Linked DNA regions of Homo sapiens: region 1 is linked to region 2. Evidence: fine-mapped expression QTL. Tissue or cell type: whole blood. Region 2 holds a variant in brackets; the other region holds the start of a gene. All regions are shown on one strand. Distances are from middle to middle.

Evidence for each region. PIP is the estimated chance that this variant, and not a neighbour inherited with it, causes the effect.
Region 1: it holds the start of PLP2, and the variant in region 2 is fine-mapped to the expression of PLP2 in whole blood (TOPMed, PIP 0.97).

What each region holds. Positions count from the first base shown.
Region 1 is chrX:49,170,518-49,173,127 of GRCh38, reverse strand. PLP2 (proteolipid protein 2) reads right to left here and starts at 1,230. Exons shown (of 5, transcript NM_002668.3): 1 at 1,032-1,230. The coding sequence starts at 1,127. RefSeq lists silencers at 534-733, 1,254-1,353.
Region 2 is chrX:49,638,366-49,641,124 of GRCh38, reverse strand. No RefSeq gene overlaps it. Among named protein-coding and RNA genes, the nearest start is that of GAGE1, 41 kb to the right of the region's middle. The variant T/C (reference allele first, on the strand shown) is at 1,292.

The DNA.
Region 1 (2,610 bases), 470 kb after region 2:
TGGAAGGGTGACATGGGAAAGGGGACCTCAATCAGCAACCAGGGCTGAGAAGATTGGTTTAAATTGGGGGTCCCATACTAAGATGCCTACGAGGGCTGGGGAAATGACATACAATAATAGCTAAACACTTTTTATGTGCTCACTGTGTTCCAAATTCAATCATCACGACAATCTAATGCTCTGGGTACTATTATTACTCTTTCTAATTTATAGACGAGAAAACTGAGGCACAGAGAGGTTTAATGGCTTGGCCAGGGTCACCCAACAAGTAAGGAGTAGAGTTGGGTGCCTCAGTTTCCTCTTTTCCCTTCTAGGTTACGGGCAGCCTGAGGGGAGTGGCGCTGCCAGGTGTTTTGTGAGCCCCGCTGACGCCAGCTTTGTGGCCTTGACCGGGGCGGAACACGCGGTTCCCCCAGCAACCCCTTTGGGAAGCGGTGAGAGTGACACCAGAGAGGCAGGACTCCGTTAAAGGCGCCGCACCCCTTTTACAAGTGACTCAAAGGCGGCGCCCACTTTGAGAAGGGTGGAAACCCCGAAAAGCTAAGGACATCCCGCCCGGCCTCTGAAGGGCGAGGAAGAACTGGCGAAGGGCGGGGCGCTCTACACCGCGGGACTAGCGCGGGGCGGGGGGGCCCCACCCCAACAGGCCCTGCCCCTGGGCGCGCTGCCAGCCCGCCCTCCTGTGCCCAGGCCGCGCCACGCCCTGCCACAGGAGGCCCCCACTTCCCAGCACCCTGGGACCCCTTCGATGCGTCCACTGATGAGTTCACGCAGGCTGTCCCCACGTAGCCCTCCGTATGCGTTATAGGCTCCTTGCTTCACCCCGGGGACCACCAGATCTCAACAACCTTCGTCAAACCCCACCGACTCGCCCTGCGCCCCGGGTTTCGGGCCTCCACCGTGAACCCACCCACCTGCACCCCACTGCCGAGCGCCCCGGCCAAGTGCCTGCCTCACCCGGACCATCCAGTTCCGCATGGTCCAGCCACCCCATCCCGCTTTTGCCCACGCGCCTGCCCCAGAACGCTCACAATCTCAGCAAACAGGAGGATTCCCTTTCGAGTGCGCGAGAAGTTGGTGCAGGCGGCCCAGCAGCCAGGAGCCGAGAGGCGCTCAGAATCCGCCATGGCATGGGCTGGAGTCCCTGGTGCCTCGGAGGATCTGCTCACTTGCTCGTGGTTTCGAGGACGCTGTACACCCAGCTGTCTTGCCCGCCGTCTGGCCGGGAAGGGGGCCCCGGGGCGAAGGAGGGAGTGAATCACCGCGCAGAGCTGACGCGGGCGGGGCCGGAGCCGGGCCAGGTGGCTGCCGCCCCGGAAGCCCCCTCGCCCCGCCCCCCAAGGATACTCCCAGCCTGGCGCACAGCCCCCGGGGCGCCCCATCGCAGGGGTGCTTGGCAGCTCCAGGTACCAGGAGCAGTAATAGCGGGACCCTTCGCCTTTTTGGAATGCAAATGCACCCGAGACAGCTTCAGCTTAGAACCGCGGGAATCTGGCTTTGGGATGGAGTGACTCAGTTTCCTTAACTGAATAAAACGGCCGAGGCAGAGTTAAATCCGAAAGACTTGGGGCCCAGTATGTTGCCAGAATTCGGAATATTTTTGATTTCAGAAAGTTTTCCCATGCATATACTCTCAGCGGGGTTTGGAGCTGCCGCGTTACAAAAAAAAAAAAAAAGGGCCAGGCGCGGTGGCTCACGCCTGTAATCCCAACACTGGGAGGCCGAGGCGGGTGGATCACCTGAGGTCGGGAGTTCGAGACCAGCCTGACCAACATGGAGAAACACCGTCTCTACTAAAAATACAAAAATTAGCTGGGCACGGTGACGCATGCCTGTAATCCCAGCTACTCGGAAGGCTGAGGCAGGAGAATCGCTTGAACCCGGGAGGCAGAGGTTGCGGTGAGCCAAGATCATGCCATTGCACTCCAGTCTGGGCAACAAGAGCGAAACTACGTCTCAAAAACAACAACAACAACAAAAACGGTATTTCTTCAAGAAAAGGTATGAACGTTCACAATAACTGGGTAAGGATTGAAAAGTGTTCCTCGGCTGGGCGCAGTGGCTCATGCCAGTAATCCCAACACTCTGGGAGCCTCAGGTGGGAGGATCGCTTGAGCCCAAGAGTTGGAGATCAACCTCGGCAACACAGTGAGACCTCATCTCTACAAATAATTTTAAAAATTAGCCCAGGCGGCCGGACGCGGTGGCTCAAGCCTATAATCCCAGCAGTTTGGGAGGCCGAGGTGGGCAGATCACGAGGTCAGGAGTTCGAGACCAGCCTGTCCAACATGGTGAAACCCCGTCTCTACTAAAAATACACAAAAAATGAACCGGGTGTGGTGGCGCTCGCCTATAATCCCAGCTAGTCAGGAGGCTGAGGCAGGAGAATCGCTTGAACCTGGGAGGTGGAGGTTGTAGTGAGCCAAGATTGCGCCACTGCACTCCAGCCTGGGCGACAGAGCAAGACTCCGTCTCAAAAAAAAAAAAAAAAAAGAAAAAAGAAAAAAATTAGCCCAGGCATGGTGGCACGTGCCTGTAATCCCAACTACTCGGGAGGCTGAGGTGGGAGGATTGCTTGAGCCTGGGAGTTCAAGGCTGCAGTGAACCATG
Region 2 (2,759 bases):
CTGATGAGGATGTGAAGAAACTGGAACCCTTATACACCACTGGTAAGAATGTAAGATACAACCACTTTGGAAAATTATTTGGCAACTTCTTACAAAGTTAAACATATACATATAACCCAGCCATTCCACTCCTAGGTATTTACCCCAAAGAAATGATAGTATAAGTCCACACAAAGACTTGTACACAAATGTTCAGAGCAGCTTTATTTGTAATAGCCCACAGCTGGAAACAACCCAAATGTTCATCAATAGTTAAATAGATAAATTGTGTTATATCTACACAATAAAATACTACTCAGCAATGAAAATAAATGACCTATTGAAACACGCAACAATTTGGATGAATCTTACAGTAATATGAGTAAAAAAAGACAAAAAAGAATGCATACTATATGATTCCATTTATATAAATTATAGAAAATGCAAAATACCTATACTGACAGATAGCAGATCTCTGATTTTCTGAGGAGGTGGTGGCAGGGAGGACCCAGAAGGAGGGATGACAAAAGGGCATGAGGACACTTTCAGGGGTGATGAATATGTTCACTATATTGATTGTGGTGATGGTTTCATAATGTAAACATATGTCAAAACTTACCAAATTGTACAGTTTAAATGTGTGCCATGTATTGTATGTCAATAAATGTACCTCAATAAAGCTATAAAAAAATTGTAAAGGACACAATGTCCTTAGGGAAGTGTTACTCATGGAGGAGATGAAACTGAAACTTGATGGATGAGGAGCATTTGCACGGATACGGAGAATGGGTGTAGGGGATAAAGTGGTAAGAAGATATTGATAGGAAGAAACATAAAGACTTAGATGATGACAAATGCAAAAGGTGTTCAGGCCAGGCACCGTGGCTCACGCCAGTAATCCCAACATTTCGGGAGGCTGAGGTGGGTAGATCACCTGAGGTCAGGAGTTCAAGACCAGCCTGGCCAACATGGTGAAACCCCATCTCTACAAAAAAATACAAAAATTAGCCAGACGTGGTGACGTGTGCCTGTAATCCCAGCTACTCGGGAGGCTGAGGCACGAGAATTGCTTGAAGCAGGAGGTGGAGGTTGCAGTGAGCCGAGATTGGGCCACTGCACTCCAGCCTGGGTGACAGAGTGAGACTCCGTCTAGTTTAAAAAAAAAAAAGGGGGGGGTGTTTGGAGAATTAGACATAACATAAGTAAGGATTCACGAAGGGCTGTTCTATGGGCAAGACTATAGTATGACTTTTCAGAGGATAAAGGACGATAAAGGAGCTATACAAGAAATTTCTTCAGATTTCCAAAAAGA[T/C]TACTTTCTGACTAAGGAGAAGTAGGGGTCCATCTGAGGGTCTACCTTAGCCACCATTTTTGCCTTGGAAAATAGAAGCTTTCTGATAAAAACAGTAAGTTGCAATCACTAGAAAGGAGGCTTAGCTTCAATGTGATTGCTAAATTTTAAGAAAAGGAGACAAGGAAACCATGGGCAGCAATTGTATTCAACTCTTCAAAGCTCCTGGAAGGCAGTAACCAGTTCCTGACAAAACGAAGATCCAATTCCAAGGACAAATGTAAAAGGTGAGGGGGAAGAGGCTGGTTGTTCAGCACCAGAGGGGGGATGCTCTGCCTTAGAGATGATAAGAAAATGTATCCAAAAACTTGGAAATAGAGCAAGTGGAGATCAGTGTGTCTTCTTTATTTATTTATTTAGAGATGGAGTCTCGTGCTGTTGTCCAGGCTGGAGGGCAATTGTATGATCATAGCTCACTATAACCTCAAACTCCTGGGCTCAAGCAACAGCATGTCTTTTTAATGTCATATTGGAGCATTGTTTAACAGGCTCGCCCAGGAACTACTGAATTCTGTAAGTAGAATGTGCCTTTCTTTGATACACTGTCTACTATTGATCAAAAGCCTAGACTCTGTGAAGTTTTCTATTAACTTGCAGATGTTTGTCCAGTAGAGAAACAAATGATTTTTGTTCTGTCAGAAAGATAACTCCAAAGGATATGGTTTCATTGCCCTGTGACACATTAATCTGTTTTGTACCTAACCTAACAGTATTAATCTAATATTCTTTTTTATAAAGGATTATATAAATCCAGGTCCTCAAATGCTCTCGGAACCAGCATTAGCATACTGCTGTTTCCTCAACGATAAGTTGAATAAAATATTTGACACTTTGAGGTAAACATAGAGATGCACCACCCAGACCACCTTTCAAGGAAAGACTCACTGTGCAGCTGCAGGGAGTGCAGTGGGCAGGCAGCCTCCAGTTGTCAGCTCCATCAGGGTTCGCTCCAGCTGCAAAAAGCTACCTCTCGAAGGTCATGCCCTTTCCCCAAAACAGGGGACACTCTACTGCGCTGTCCCTGCTCCAGAGCTCCCCACTGGGTTGGCCAAGGCTTTGTGTGGCCTGCATCCCACTCAGCTCTCCCTCTGCCTGATCCTGTTTATTCACCCCTTCCTTTCATATCAATTGATCCCCAATCTTGTACCCAAAACTCCATCTCAGCAACTGACTCAGGAAAACCCACCCTGTGATAGATAATACTGGGAGGAGTCTAAGAAAGTAAGAGATGGCCAGGCACAGTGGCTCACGCCTGTAATCTCAGCAGCTTGAGAGGCCAAGGTGGGTAGATCACGAGGTCAGGAGATCGAGACCATCCTGGCTAACATGGTGAAACCTCGTTTTACTAAAAATACAAAAAATTAACCAGGTGTGGTGGCATGCGCCTATAGTCCCAGCTACTTGGGAGGCTGAGGCAGGAGAATCGCTT